Regions from separate parts of the Homo sapiens genome. Here region 1 is linked to region 2. Evidence: fine-mapped expression QTL. A gene starts in region 2. The other region holds a variant in brackets. All regions are shown on one strand. Distances are from middle to middle. Region 1 overlaps TMEM45B (transmembrane protein 45B). Region 2 holds the start of TMEM45B (transmembrane protein 45B).

Region 1 (8,000 bases), 43 kb after region 2:
GTCTCTGCTCAGATTCTGCTTTCAGCCTAATTGTTTCTGTCTGGGATTTCTTTCACTGCTCACTTGGCAGGGAAGCCCAGAGATTATTCTATCAGCCACACTCCGACTTAAGTGATGATGTCTTGCTCATCTCTGCTCCTGGACAAACCTCCTGGGGATCTATGTGTGTGTGGTTGTGTTCATTGATTCTTCTACCCTCAACCCCAAACCCCTAAAAGGAACAACAATGGCAAGATGTCTACACAGGTGACTCAGCACACACCCTACTTTATACTGAAGCAGCTGCACCTGAGGCAGCAAAGTAGCTCTGCTGACCCGCGGGCCACCCTCACCTCACCCCATCTCCGCTTCGCTCATGCCTTTGGGTTATTCCTTGCTCCTATTTGTCTTAGAGCTACTCTTCCCTCTAAAACATCCATCCTCATTTCCCTGCAGGGATCCTGGCAGAGCAGTTTGTTCCGGATGGGCCCCACCTGCACCTCTACCATGAGAACCACTGGATAAAGTTAATGAATTGGCAGCACAGCACCATGTACCTATTCTTTGCAGTCTCAGGAATTGTTGACATGCTCACCTATCTGGTCAGCCACGTTCCCTTGGGGGTGGACAGACTGGTTATGGCTGTGGCAGTATTCATGGAAGGTAATTTTGTGGAACGGATGGAGAGGAAGGAGAGCCTGACAAGTCATATTTATGAAGGATCAGAGTACAAAATATCAGAAATGTTGCAAATATAATAACCTCCCCCAGAAAATCCACATCTCTGGACTGCCAAAACCTGAATAGGACCTAGTGCTCTACTCTGGATGGGCCAGGTGACATATTCCCTAAAGTAGCTCATGAAAGCTTTGAGGCTTGAAGGCAGCTACCAAAGCCCCGGCTAACACTGCAGGAGTCCTCCTCGCCTTCCCACTGCCGCCAGCAGCCCCTGCTCACACACGTGCATATTCCTCGGTGTGGACGTATGTGCGCACATACACATGCGGGTACACACAATGCCCCAGCTGGTTGAATGCCACCATGCAGGGGATACACCCCTTTGGTTAAGCGAAACCACACTCTACCTTTTGCCCAGGGAGGTACCGTCTTGCCTCCATCACAAGCCTCAGGAGACCCACTCCACTGCCAGGGGAGCGCTGCCAGTATGACTCACACTGACTGGGGTATGAAAATACATTTTGTCATCTAACAACCTCACTTCTGTACCTCAGCAAGAGTCGAAAAAGGTTGAGGGCAAAACTGAATTTCAAGTATACACACACAGTCTGTTACAAATCAGCAACATGCTTCAGCCGGCCCATCCTATACTGACCCCACCATGGGTTCCATAGAGATTTTAAGATACAATCCCTTGCTGCTTTATACTCCTAACATACTCATGAAATACACTTACTCGCATCTGTTTGCTGCCTGTAATGTTATGTACTAACTGCCTAAATGCTGAAGAACCTAGCTGAGACAGGTGTAGGAGGAAACTTCGGTGATGGTGAAAGCCAAGCGTAGCCCTGACAGCTGCCATCTGGTTTGTGGCAGGTTTCCTCTTCTACTACCACGTCCACAACCGGCCTCCGCTGGACCAGCACATCCACTCACTCCTGCTGTATGCTCTGTTCGGAGGGTGTGTTAGTATCTCCCTAGAGGTGATCTTCCGGGACCACATTGTGCTGGAACTTTTCCGAACCAGTCTCATCATTCTTCAGGGAACCTGGTTCTGGCAGGTGATTTTCCACACCCAGGCCCCTCGCTGGTCTGGATGGAGAAGCCCCCACCGAGCGCATCCCAGAGAAATCCCTGACGAGAATATGGGGTCTGAAAATGCAGCATTAACATGCCATGCAAAGGGGTTTAGATGACCCTTTTCCCCCCATGCCCGCCCTTTGACTCCTAGTTTTATCCATTAACATCCAGAGGATGCATTAGCAATCCAAAATTTAAAGCATGCACGGTGACGTTCAGCTGCCCTCCCCAGAGGATGGGCTGATGCCTTTCACAGGCTCTGCTTGCTAAACTGTCCACTGGAAACGTGGGCCCTGAAGTTCTGTTTTGTTGTTTGTTTTGAGAGAGACTCACCCTGTCACCCAGGCTAGAATGCAGTGGCGCAATCTTGGCTGACTGCAACCTCCATCTCCCAGGTTCAAGCGATTCTCATGCCTCAGCCTCCTGAGTAGCTCAGGTTACAGGTGCCCGCCACCACACCTGGCTAATTTTTTTGTATTTTTAGAGACAGGGTTTCACCATGTTGGCCAGGCTGGTCTCGAACTCCTGAACTCGAGTGATCCGCCTGCCTCAGCCTCCCAAAGAGCTGGGATTATAGGCGTGAGCCACTGCACCTGGACTTGTGTTTTTAAGTAAGCCTATACAACCAAAATTAAGCTGAAGCCTTTTTTTTTTTTTTTTTTTTCTGAGACAGAGTCTCGCTTTGTCGCCCAGGCTGGAGTGCAGTGGCGCAATCTTGGCTCACTGCAAGCTCCACCTCCCAGGTTCACGCCATTCTCCTGCCTCAACCTCCCAAGTAGCTGGGACTACAGGCGCCCGCCACCACGCCTGGCTAATTTTTTGTATTTTTAGTAGAGATGGGGTTTCACCGTGTTAGCCAGGATGGTTTCAATCTCCTGACCTCATTATCCACCCACCTCAGCCTCCCAAAGTGCTAGGATTACAGGCATGAGCCACCGCGCCCGGCTTTTTTTTTTTTTTTAAGACAGTCTCGCACTGTGGCCCGGGCTGGTGTGCAGTGTCATGATCTCGGCTCACTGCAACCTCCGCCTCCCAGGTTCAAGCAATTCTCCTGCCTCAGCCTCCCAGTTAGCTAGGATTATAGGTGCCCACCACCATGCCCAGCTCATTTTTTGTATTTTTAGTAGAAACAGGGTTTCACTATGTTGGTCAGGCTGGTCTTGAACTCCTAACCTTGTAAACCGCCTGCCTCAGCCTCCCGAAGTGCTGGTATTACAGACGTAAGCCACCATACCTGGCCAGAGCCATTTTTCTATGTGAAAAGGCCTTTCTATGCTAACGAAGTGTGGGAACTATGAGGCGGTGGTCACACATGGGCCACTTCGGTGGCCACAGGAGAACGGCTAGATTGCTTCTCAGGACGACCAACCACAAGACCAACTTCTCTCTGTAATCCCCTAGATTGGGTTTGTGCTGTTCCCACCTTTTGGAACACCCGAATGGGACCA[G/A]AAGGATGATGCCAACCTCATGTTCATCACCATGTGCTTCTGCTGGCACTACCTGGCTGCCCTCAGCATTGTGGCCGTCAACTATTCTCTTGTTTACTGGTATGTCTGAGACTTCAGTGAAGCTTTTCCTCCTAACTCTAAGCAGGACTGATGTGATTAACTTGCACCATCTGATGAGTGCCGACTACAGGCCAAATTCTGTGCAAGGTACTCTCATGCAGGGAAGGTATCACTACCCTTATTTGCAAACAAGGGGAATGAGGCTTTTCAAAGTTTAATGACCTGAGGGCTTTTCAAAGTCATAGTAACCTGAGGGACCCAGGTTTCAAATGCAGGTCTCACAGATTTTAAGCCTATGGTGTGGTGGGGAATACTGAAATGGGAATCAGTACTGGATGGCAGTCCCCACGTAAAGGGTTCATTCTGGACCCATCATCTTATTTCCAGACCTGCCCTCCCTGCTTCCCAGAAATGATGTGACAGTCAAAAAATAAACCAGAGCAGAATGTTAAGACAAACTGCACTCCACCCCTCACTGAAGGCTCCTTAGAGGTATACAGATAACAGCTATGGACTCCTATGCACTTGCTGCGCCCCAGGCCCAGTGGAAAGCAGCTACACTCTATTATCCCATTTAATCTTCACTGCTTTATGAAGTATGCACTGTTATTTTTTACAGGTGGAGAAAACAAGGCTTCAAAAAGCTGAGTAACTTGACCAAGGTCACCCCACTAATAAATGGCAGAGCCTCTCAGTGCAAGGGTGAATTTTAGCAAATGGTATTACCAGTTCTATTTGCTGTTCGGCTGCCTCTACCTTTTCTTCTAGGTCATTTCTCTAGATCCCAAGCAGAATATTAGGTTGGTGCAAAAGTAACGGTGATTTTTGCCATTATTTCATCCAGAAAGAGTTCCACACGGACCAAAGAGAAGGGAGCTCAAGTCAGTTTCTTTTAGTTCTCCTGCCCAGCCACTGAAACAGTAAACCAAGATAGGCAAGACCTTGGCCTCAATTATGACATTCAGTAGTTTCCACCATCGCCCCTTTATCTACTGATGAATATTTCCTAAGAAGTCTAGTTTATAGACATGTAATCACAGTATTTGATAGAAATATAAAGAAAATAGTTTAAGAATCAGTAGATGCCTTCACATCCTTGGTAATGGATTAAGGGAATCTCTGGCTAATTGGCTCTTACTCTTTCTCTATTAAAGCCTTTTGACTCGGATGAAGAGACACGGAAGGGGAGAAATCATTGGAATTCAGAAGCTGAATTCAGATGACACTTACCAGACCGCCCTCTTGAGTGGCTCAGATGAGGAATGAGCCGAGATGCGGAGGGCGCAGATGTCCCACTGCACAGCTGGAATGAATGGAGTTCATCCCCTCCACCTGAATGCCTGCTGTGGTCTGATCTTAAGGGTCTATATATTTGCACCTCCTCATTCAACACAGGGCTGGAGGTTCTACAACAGGAAATCAGGCCTACAGCATCCTGTGTATCTTGCAGTTGGGATTTTTAAACATACTATAAAGTCTGTGTTGGTATAGTACCCTTCATAAGGAAAAATGAAGTAATGCCTATAAGTAGCAGGCCTTTGTGCCTCAGTGTCAAGAGAAATCAAGAGATGCTAAAAGCTTTACAATGGAAGTGGCCTCATGGATGAATCCGGGGTATGAGCCCAGGAGAACGTGCTGCTTTTGGTAACTTATCCCTTTTTCTCTTAAGAAAGCAGGTACTTTCTTATTAGAAATATGTTAGAATGTGTAAGCAAACGACAGTGCCTTTAGAATTACAATTCTAACTTACATATTTTTTGAAAGTAAAATAATTCACAAGCTTTGGTATTTTAAAATTATTGTTAAACATATCATAACTAATCATACCAGGGTACTGCAATACCACTGTTTATAAGTGACAAAATTAGGCCAAAGGTGATTTTTTTTTAAATCAGGAAGCTGGTTACTGGCTCTACTGAGAGTTGGAGCCCTGATGTTCTGATTCTTCAAAGTCACCCTAAAAGAAGATCTGACAGGAAAGCTGTATAATGAGATAGAAAAACGTCAGGTATGGAAGGCTTTCAGTTTTAATATGGCTGAAAGCAAAGGATAACGAATTCAGAATTAGTAATGTAAAATCTTGATACCCTAATCTTGCTTCTGGATCTGTTCTTTTTTTAAAAAAACTTCCTTCACCGCGCCTATAATCCTAGCACTTTGGGAGGCCGAGGCAGGCAGATCACGGGGTCAGGAGATCAAGACCATCCTGGCTAACATGGTGAAACCCCGTCTCTACTGAAAATACAAAAAATTAGCCGGGTGTGGTGGCGGGCGCCTGTAGTTCCAGCTACTCGGGAGGCTGAGGCAAGAGAATGGCATGAACCCGGTAGGGGAGCTTGCAGTGAGCCCAGATCATGCCACTGTACTCCAGCCTAGGTGACAGAGCAAGACTCTGTCTCAAAAACAAGCAAACAGACTTCCTTCAACAAATATTTATTAAATATCCACTTTGCAACAGCACTGAAATGGCTGTAAGGACTCCTGAGATATGTGTCCAGCAAGGAGTTTACAGTCAAACAGGAGAGACATGCCTGTAGTTACATCCAGTGTGATGGGTGCTGAGAGGCAAGTACAAACCACGATGAGAAAAAGGAGAGGAGGGGAAATGCAGAGCTTGCCCTGTAGAAAAAGCACATCCCAGGTAGAGAGGGTAGCACATTAAAAAATGAAAGCATAAAAAAATACGGAGAACTTAAAAAGATTAAGTTCTACAAACTGATAAAAGTGAGTTAGGACCAAGTTGATGGGCCTTAGAGACCAAATAATACTTTCCGTGTGCATAGTATTTTTCAGATTCTGAGATGCACCCTATCTCATTTGATTCTCACAACCGCTTGTAATGTGTAAGAGCATGAGGTCTTTCAGAAAAGCTGGCTGGCCTAGCAGGGCGCGGTGGCTCACGCCTGTAATCCCAGCACTTTTGGAGGCCGAGGCGGGTGGATCATGAGGTCAAGAGATCGAGACCATCCTGGCCAACATGGTGAAACCCTGTCTCTACTAAAAATATAAAAATTAGCTTGGTGTGGTGGTGAGCACCTGTAGTCCCAGCTACTTGGGAGGCTGAGGCAGGAGAATCACTTGAACCCAGTAGGCGGAGGTTGCACAGTGAGCCGAGATTATGCCACTGCACTCCAATCTGGCAACAGAGTGAGACTCCATCTCAAAAAAAAAGAAAAGTTGGCTGGCCTAAGACCACACAGATGCTAGGTGGCAAAGCCAGTCTTATGACTCCAAAACCAGGCATCTGTCTCACCATTCTAACCCTGCTACGTCACACAAATCCAGGAGAGAGAATTTACATAAAGCACTGCATGCGCTTTGGAAGAAATGCTGTACTTAATTAAGTGAAGGTAACCTCCCAGAGTTAGCCAGCCTTTCAGAGTTGAAGTCACAGCTTAGGGATTCAAAATGAGCTACTAAAAACACTAATTTAGTTATTAGAGAACTCCGGGTTCCACTTTCAGGATCCACCTTGGTTGGCCAGTGGAAAAACACAAGTATTCTTCATTCAACAAGTACTGAAGGACCTATTATTGGCAATGAACGTAACATGTGTTCTTTCCTTGGGGACTGCAGGTGGGCAGAAGGACCTGTTCAGTTTTACTTTCAAAGAAAAGATCCACATTTGAGGTTTCTTTAAGTGTACCATATTTTAAGAAAGAAAATGTACTATTTTCTCCAGAGTGAGGGGCTAAGGTGTGAAGAACAGATATAAAATATTAAAATGTATTCAGATGCCCTTCACACAGCAAGGCTTGTGATGCCTTCATGGAAGTGATCAACCCTATCATAAACATTGTTAGATGTGGTATTAAAGTATAAACTGATGACAGTACTATTCTCCACATCCTGTCTTAGATATGTTTTCTGAATAATTTTACCCATATCTGTCAACCAGAGGCTCAATGGTTGCCACCAGAAGTCCTTTTGAAATTGTTCCCTACAAAACACCCACCATGGCTGGGTGCAGTGGCTCACGCCTGTAATCCCAGCACTTTGGGAGGCTGAGGCAGACAGATCACCTGAGGTGACAAGTTGGAGACCAGCCTAGCCAAAATGGTGAAACCCCATTTCTACCAAAAATACAAAAATTAGCAGGGCGTGGTGGCACGTGCCTGTGATTGATCCCAACTACTCAGGAGGCTGAGGCAGGAGAATCACTTGAACCCAGGAGGCGGAGGTTGCAGTGAGCTGAGATCTTGCCGCTGCACTCCAGCCTGGGCTACAGAGTGAGACTCCATCTCAAAAACAAAAACAAAAACAAAACACTCACCATAGCTGTGCCATTCATCTATCAGAAACCTGAAGCCAGCATATGAAGGAAGCAAGTGTGGCACAAATCCTGGGCTGTCACCGTAAACAGCTCCAGTAGGAAGTTCCCATTCTCCGCTATTGCCATTCCACCCACAGGCTGGATAGTGCCGAAGTTACACTTCTGAGGAGTCAGCATCCTGACGCAGCCTAAACTTTACACTCACTCCCTGCTCTCCAGAATGCACACGTCTGCCTGTGCAAAAACGACAAGCAGAGTCAGGTGACCTCAGCTAACAGGAATGTGGGCAGGGCTGCGGCTGAATGCCAGAGCTACTTTTATTAAATTCCTTGTTAAGTAAATTCAAAAGGGGTTTGTTTGTAGCTGGCAGTAAATACCTAAGACAAGATCTCTGGAATTTCTACCTTTTTTTTTTTTTAATTTAAAAACTGTCACATGGCTTTCTATGTGAAATGTGATTCTTGAAAATAACAGATACGCAA
Region 2 (8,524 bases):
ATTGGCTTAGGCAAAGATTTTAAGACCAAAAACCCCAAAGCAAATCTAACAAAAACAAAAATAAATAGATATTACCTAATGAAAACACTTCGGCACAGCAAAATAATCAGCAGTGTAAACAGACACCTCACTGAATGGGAGAAAATATTCAACTATGCGTCCTACAAAGGACTAATATGCAGAATCTACAAGGAACTCAAATCAGTAAGAAAAAAAGAAATAATCCCATCAAAAAGTGGGCAAAGAACATGAATAGACAGTTCTCAAAAGAAGATACACAAATGACTAACACATGAAAAAGAATGCTCAACATCACTAATTATCAGGGAAATGCAGATTAAAACCACAATGAAATACCACCTTACTTCTGCAAGACTGGCCATAATTTACAAAGTCAAAAAATAGTAGATGTTTGCATAGATGTGATGAAAAGGGCACTTTTACACTGATGGTGGGAATATAAACTAGTACATCCACTGTGGAAAACTTTATGGAGATTCCTTAAAGAACTAAAAGTAAAACTACCATTTGATCCAGCAGTCCCACTATTGAGTATATATCCAGAAGAAAAGAAGTCATTATATGAAAAAGCCACTTGCATCTGCATGTTTATAGGAGCAAAATACACAATTGCAAAAATATGGAACCAGCCTAAATGCCCCTCGACTGACAAGTGGATAAAGAAAATGTGATATATTTACACCATGGAATACTACTCAGCCATAAAAAGGACTGAAGTAATGGCATTTGCAGCAATTTGTACGGGAGTTGGAGACCACTATTCCAAGTGAAGTAACTCAGGAATGGGAAACCAAATATCGTGTATGTTCTCACTTATAAGGGTTTGCTGAACTATGAGGATGCAAAGGCATAAGAATGATATAATGGGCCGGGTGCAGTGGCTCACAACTGTAATCCCAGCACTTTGGGAGGCCAAGGCAGGCGGATCATGAAGTCAGGAGATTGAGACCATCCTGGCTAACATGGTGAAACCCTGTCTCTACTAAAAATACAAAAAATTAGTCGTCGTGGCACGCGCCTGTAGTCCCAGCTACTCAGAGGTCTGAGGCAGGAGAATCGCTTGAACTTGGGAGGCAGAGGTTGCAGTGAGCTGAGATTGCGCCACTGCACTCTAGCCAGGGCGACAGAGCAAGACTGTCTCAAAAAAAAAAAAAAAATACATACATACATACATATATATATATATATATATATATATATATATATATAATGGACTTTGGGGACTCAAGGGAAAGTGGGAGGAGGGTGAGGGATAAAAGACTATACATTGGGTACAGTGTACACTGCTCAGGTGATGAGTACACAAAAATCTCAGAAATCACCACTAAATAACTTATCCATGTAACAAAAAAATGACCTGTTCCCCAAAAACTATTGCAATTTTTAAAAATGTAAACATTAGCCATGCGTGTTGATGCACACCTGTAGTCCCAGCTACTTAGGAAGCTGTGGCAAGAGTATCTCTTGAGCGTTGGAGGTCGAGGCTACAGTGAGCTATGATTGCACCACTGAACTTCATCCTGGGCAACAAAGTGAGCCCGTCTCAAACACACACACACACACACAACAAAAAATTGGTTTTGTCCTGGTACCTGGTTATTATAATTTGAAGCAGAAATTATTTTGTTTAGATTTTTTAATATTAAGAAGCATCTCCGTCGGGCGAGGTGGCTCACACCTCTAATCCCAGCACTTTAGGAGGCTGAGGTGGGCAGATCACCTGAGGTCGGGAGTTCAAGAACAGTCTGACAAACATGGAGAAACCCCGACTCTACTAAAAACACAAAATTAGCTGGGCATGGCGGCGCATGCCTGTGATCCCAGCTACTCAGGAGAGTGAGACACGAGAGTCACTTGAACCCAGGAGGCCAAGGTTGTGGTGAGCCGAGATCGCGCCATTGCACTCCAGCCTGGGCAACAAGAGCAAAACTGTCTCAAAAATAAAAAGTAAAAAAAAAAAAAGCATCTCTACTCACCATTAACTATACAATTAAGAGGTCACACCTTTGTTTCATCATCGTAGACAAGGTAAATATTACTAAAGAAAATGCCTGTCCATAAAAGGGATCTGGTGACAGAGGACAGCCTCTCCCAGAGTAACAGGCATCCAGGACTCCACTCTATCAACGATTTCTAAAACAATGGGTGTGAGCAAGGGCTAGGATGAGATGTGTGATTAAGTTCCTGAGCTGACGGCAAATTTAAAAGATGCCCTCTCAGCTCCTGGCTGCGGCCCATCCTCCCTGTAAGGTGCACGACTCCATGACGCTTTTCACTGACGGCACTACCTCTTGGCCATTACCACCTCCCACCAGATCCCATTCGCTCTGTTTTACCAGGGAAAGGTCTGCTCCAGTTAATGCCTTATCCTTCACAGTGATGTTCTTTGACTTTATAAAAACGGAGCCATTTGGTCAACAGGCTGCCCGTCGGATCCCGTGTCCTTCTGCACTGCTAATATCTAGCTGTGGCCCTGCTTTAAAACCCAAATGCAAACATCTCTTCCATGAAGCCCTTCCTGATTGCCAGTGCCCTCAACAGTGGAATAAGCTGCCAGGCATCTTAGAGATCTAGACCCGTGGTTCTCAACCCCCACTTCCCCAGGCCTCCTGAGAAGCTTTTAATAGGTGCATCAGCCCTGGATTCTTACCGGCAGGACTGAGAGGGAGCCTTAACGCTTGTGTTCTTCTAATAGTGTGCACAGGGTTGACGGGAAACACACACACACACAGTGCAGAACCATTCCACGAAGCTGTGTATCCGGAATTGGTTCCCTCTGAAGAGTTCCTGGTCCCGGTCCTGCCGCGGACCTTCACGGCATTATAGTTCTTAAACATGGTGTGTCCGGAGTTTGTTCCTTCAAATGTTCAGGTGTGTCCGAAGTTTTTTCTTTCTAGAGAGTTCGTGGTCTATGCACGACTTGATGAGTGAGGCCGCGGACCTTCGCAGGGAGTGTTACAGCTCTTAAAGGTGGCGCATCCGCGTTGTTCCTTCCTCCCAGCGGGTTCGTAGTTTCGCCGACCTCAGGAGTGAAGCCACAGACCTTCGCAGGGAGTGTTACACCTCTTAAAAGTGGTGCGTCTGGAGTTGTTTGCTCCTCCCTGTGGGTTCGTGGTGTCGCTGACTTCAGGAGTGAAGCCACAGACCTTCACAGTGAGTGTTATGGCTCTTAAAGGTGGCGGCTCCAGAGTTGTTTCTTGTGGTGGCTTCCTGGTCTCGCTGGTTTACAGGAGTGAACCTGCAGACCTTCACTGTGAGTGTTAAAGCTCATAAAGGTAGTGTGGACCTAAAAGGTGAGCAACAGCAAAATTTATTGCAAAGAGCGAAACAACAAAACCCCAACACCATCGAAGGGGACCCAAACGCAGCTGCCGCTGGCTCGGATGGCCAGCTTTTATTCCCTCATTGGCCCCGCCCACATCCTCCTGATTGGTCCTGCCCACATCCTCCTGATTGGTCCATTTTACAGAGCGCTGATTGGTCCATTTTACAGAGTGCTGATTGGTCCATTTTACAGAGTGCTGATTGGTCCGTTTTTACAGAGTGCTGATTGATGTGTTTACAAACCTTTAGCTAGACATAGAGCATTGATTGGTGCATTTACAATCCTTTGGCTAGAGAGAAAAGTTCTCCAAGTCCCCACCAATTAGCTGGACACAGAGCACTGATTGGTGCATTTTTACAGAGTGCTGATTGGTGTGTTTACAAACCTTTAGCTAGACACAGAGTGCAGATTGATGCTTTTACAATCCTTTAGCTAGACAGAAAAGTTCTCCAAGTCCCCATCCGACCCAGAAGCCCAGCGGGTTTCACCTCTCAGTAGCTTACAGAAGAGGACCCTGCTGCCACAGCACAATACCACAAAGAAAGTCATGCTCTCCTCAGCAGGTAGCCCCCTTCTCCGGGACAGGAACTTTGTTTCCTTCTTAGCTCTATCGCCAGCACCTAGAACAGTGCCCACCTGTCAGATCTGTTATCAGATGGGAACATGGCAGATTTGTTGAATGAATGAAGGAATGAATGAACTATGTGACACTCAAACTTAGCCACCAAACTTAAACTAAAAAAACTGGGTTGTGGTCCCTGATGGACCGTTGGCACCTTCTTCCTTTGCTGGACGGTGATCCGTGGCTGTTTCTGCGGTGTGTTCGCAGTGGTTGCCTGGCTTGGTAACAAACACTCTTCGGAGCCACAGCCTGTTCTCAGGGTCCTCGCCGCCTCCCAGGCCCTGCGATCTCTTTGCATCTCAGGAGGTCCAGGTTGGTTGCAGTCCTCTTGGGTGACTCAGGAACCAGCCTCTCCTGAAGCACACAGCTTAGGGAGTTCCTGAGGCCAGAGACATCTCCACGGGAAAGTCAAAGGCCTGGAGGAAGTGCGGACCTGACGACAGATGCCCCGCACGCTGGCCGGGACCGGGAAGGGCGGTCAAGGGTGGAAAGGGGCTGGCGGCTGCCAGGCCTGGCGGAGTGGAGCGGGGCGGGGCGCAGCGGGGCGGGGCGGGCCTGGAGCTGCACCTGCTTCTGGGCGGACGCACTTGGCGCGCGGCGCGGGCTGCAGACGGCTGCGAGGCGCTGGGCACAGGTCAGACGTCCGTACCCGCAGGGGGCTCGAACCTGGAGGAGGGCTCGAAGGGAGAGGGGGCCCCGCCAAGGAGCGGGGCTGTGATGGAGAGGAGGTTCCGACTCGCAGGGGACCTGCGGGGGAGGGGACGCGGACAGGGAGGGGCTCTGGGACAGGGGTGAAGGCTGCGCTAGGGGAGGACGGGAGGGGATGGAGGGCCCTGGTGTCGCGGAAGCCCAGCTGGGGCCCCCTCCGGGCTGCGGAACCGGTGCGCACACTACTCCCACCGCCCCCGAGTGCCTCTGTCCGGCTGGCCGCGGCCCTGGAACGAATATTGCTCAGTCCCCCGCGAGTCAGGTCTGCCGCGTTGCCCGGTGAGGGGAAGGTGTGAAGCCCCGGGCCTCCGTCTGCCCGGTGAGTCCGGGGACGCGCGCCCCCGGGGATGCCATCTGGCTCCTGGGCTGTGACCAGTCACAGCTCACATAGCTCTGGGCACTGGTACCGACTGCCTTTCCTTGTTAGCTGCGATACACAAATACACGAGCCAGATCCTTTCCTGAGGCCAGGAAGCCTGGAATCTAATAACACCGGGCGGTGGATAAAGTCCCCCGAGCCAGTGCTTAGCTTCCGTTAATGGAGCCATGGATGGAAGCGGATGTCAGGCGCAGTGGGGGAGAAATTTGCGGGGGTGGCCCTGTCTAGGGCCAGAGAAACAACCTCTGAAGCTTTGATCCAGCCCTAGAGGGAAGAAAGATGTGAGTTTCAGCCAGGGAAACGTAGCACTTTAAGAAATAGAAACCCTTTCAAAATTTGAGGGCAGGTAGCTCTCCTAAAAGTTGCAGAAATGGCCACTTCTTTTTTTTTTTTTTTTTTTTTTTGAGACGGAGTCTCGCTCTGTCGCCCAGGCTGGAGTGCAGTGGCGCAATCTCGGATCACTGCAAGCTCCACCTCCCGGGTTCACACCATTCTCCTGCCTCAGCCTCCCGAGTAGCTAGGACTACTGGCGCCCGCCACCACGCCCGGCTAATTTTTTGTATTTTTTTTTTTTTTGGTAGAGACGGGGTTTCACCGTGTTAGCCAGGATGGTCTCGATCTCCTGACCTCATGATCCACCCGCCTCAGCCTCCCAAAGTGCTGGGATTACAGGCGTGAACCACCGCGCCCAGCTAGAAATGGCCACTTCTTTCACGTTCTCTTCGACCGCTTTCTGCGGTGTCTGCCCTTTTCCTCCTCCTGCACCTTTTTGTCTCCTAGGGTCGCATAGCCTTCCAAACAGGCCTGCCTACAGCATTTTACCTGCAATTTTACACTCATTTTAATAGAAAGGATGGCTTATTGTTCATGAGAGACGTGTACTGTTTTTAACCAGATGTGTAATATCTTCAGTATAACCTGGATGTTGTGCAGTGGGAAGTTATGGAAAGAATCAGGACACGTGGTTAGGTAGGGGCCCAGGGGCGTCAGACTTAGCTCTTTGTGACAGTGAGCTTCTTGGTTTAATAAGGATATTGGCTCCCTCTGTTCCTGGGGTTTCTGGGAAAAGATATGGAACTGATATGAAGGTTTTATTGAATATGGCCCACTGATTTTACAAGTGGAGGTGACTGAGATAAGCAGAAGGTGAGGCATGACCTCTGGCTGTGCATTATTTGTTCTGATATTACAGGAGCCAAGCATTCCATTTCCTTCTTTTTAAAGAGCTTTGATTTCCTCTCACATCTTCATGAAGATGGAAACAGTGCCCCCACTTACTTATCCTCAGGCCACACCTGTTCCCATTTATTCCATGAGTTCCTCCCACACCCTTCTGGTTGATGTTGGTTGTGATGGTCGAGGTAATTGAATCTCACATTTGGCACCAGTTATTTCTGTTTCTCATCTCCCCCCTACCTGCAGTTAAACATCAGCTGCTATACTTAACTGTTCAAAGTACAGATGTTACCTGTGTTGGGTGTAATCAAAAGATTATCTCTTTTCCTCAAATGAAAAATGGGTGAGGACAGTTTCACCACACATAGAGTCACTCCCCTAGCCAAAGTCCTTGCTATTGCAAAACTTTTTACTGTAAGAGAATTAAAGTCACTAGTGTGTCATCAACTAATGGTACTTATAGACACATTCCATATTTGTTTCTATAGAAAGATCATAAGACAAACACTAGATTATTCCCAGTATGAGACCATACTGAATATGAACAATTAGAGGCCACAGGTGAGTGCTGTCCTCCTCACACTTTCTTTGAACTCTTAAGCTTCTACTCTTTTAACCAGCTACCCCTCTCCCCAAAACCTTCACTGAGGCTAGAAACAAACACAAATAGACTATTTGAATTTTAGCAAATTTTATCTCTCTTTTCTATTCTCTTGTGTAAAACTTAAATGGCCACAAGCTACACTACTGGAGGAAAAAGGAAAGCTAAAAGGTCTATCAGCCTTCTGTATGTGATGCAGAGTTCAACTGAATATAGCAAGGTACACACCCGCATTCTCCTTGCCAGGACTTAGATATCATAAGCCATTATCTTGCTGGTTGTTGAAATCATAATGGGGCTTTATAGAGCACAAGGCGATGTTTGTAAACAGCACTGTTCAGGTCAGATTAGAATCCGTATTTCAAAAATGAGGAGATGGAAACAGAGATATTGTGTATGTGGTCCAGGGTTAGCCAGTAATTAAATGGCAGAGCCAGAACTCAAACCAACATTCCTTCCAGAATACCACAGCTGCCTCTGGAGTGGTTTTTGTTGTTCTTGTTGAATTTTGTGATGGAAGATTGTGATTTGTTTTTCCCGAACACTTAATATGTTTTCTGACTTGAATTATCAGAATCTAAATTTAGAAACTCTCTCGTTTGGTATATTTCATGCCCATCTTTGTTCCATATAATTACAAAAATATCTTAGAGCTGAGTATAACCTTAAAGATTGTCAAGTCCAATCTTGTGGTTTTTCAAGGAAGAAAACCGGATTTAAGAAAAATAAAGCAAGTACCTCATGTTGCTTCCCCAAATCTACTTCATTGGAGAATTACAGCTAAAAACAATGTTCAGATTTTTGCTCCTTCTGTCATGTGGTCCCTTGAGAATTTGCCAAATGTATAAATCCAGTGACTTATTTTGATGTACTCTTTTGGTTTGAGGTCTGTGACAGCAAACATAACCTCCTTGAATCCCAGCCTCAAATGCCTATGGACCTTCTGTTCTAACTGTTATTATAACTGTAGCCGTTATTATAGTGGCTAAAGTTCTAACTTCTGTTCTAACTGTGCTCCTGGTTCCATGACAAAGAGAGCTTTACTTGTCTTATTCCTAGCACAGTGCCCATAGCAGGCATACATAAAATGTGGTATGTCAGATAAACATCTGAAAAAGTGTGAGATGTCATTAGACGTTCATTCAGCTACAAGAACAGAAAACCCTACTACAGCGGCTTAAACAAGTAAGGAGTTTGTTTTTCTCAGAGAACGAGAAGTCTGGAGGTGAGAAGGCTGGGGCTGGGAAAGGGGTTCCGATATGAACGTCATCTGAGACAGGCTCCTTGTGTCTTCCCGCACCACCCTCCTTAGCATGGAGCTTTCATACTCACTTCCGCAAGTTGCAGCAGAAAGACGGGCAGAGGCATGCTCCAGAAGAGTCTTGTCTTGTCTTTTCTTTTCTTTTCTTTTCTCTCTTCTTTTCTTTTCTCTCTCTCTCTCTCTGTCTCATCTCTTTCTTTCTTTTGACTCAGAGTCTCTCTCAGTGGCACAATCTCGGCTCACTGCAACCTCCGCTTCCTGGGTTCAAGTGATTCTCCTGCCTCAGCCTCCAAGTAGCTGGGATTACAGACGTGCACCACCACGCCCAGCTAATTTTTGTATTTTTAGTAGAGACGGGGTTTCACCATGTTGGTCAGGCTGGTCTTGAACTCCTGACCCTGTGATCTGCCCCCCTCGGCCTCCCAAAGTGC

The links. PIP is the estimated chance that this variant, and not a neighbour inherited with it, causes the effect.
Region 1: its variant is fine-mapped to the expression of TMEM45B in whole blood (INTERVAL, PIP 0.99).

What each region holds. Positions count from the first base shown.
Region 1 is chr11:129,854,175-129,862,174 of GRCh38, forward strand. TMEM45B (transmembrane protein 45B) reads left to right here. Exons shown (of 6, transcript NM_138788.5): 3 at 436-642; 4 at 1,534-1,718; 5 at 3,139-3,284; 6 at 4,400-5,829. The coding sequence ends at 4,511. Among named protein-coding and RNA genes, the nearest start is that of NFRKB, 37 kb to the right of the region's middle. RefSeq lists enhancers at 7,554-8,000, 7,660-7,954. The variant G/A (reference allele first, on the strand shown) is at 3,186.
Region 2 is chr11:129,811,297-129,819,820 of GRCh38, forward strand. TMEM45B (transmembrane protein 45B) reads left to right here and starts at 4,552. Exons shown (of 6, transcript NM_138788.5): 1 at 4,552-4,602. It overlaps LOC124902793 (a long non-coding RNA gene), which reads right to left and starts at 3,391. Exons shown (of 2, transcript XR_007062952.1): 1 at 2,672-3,391.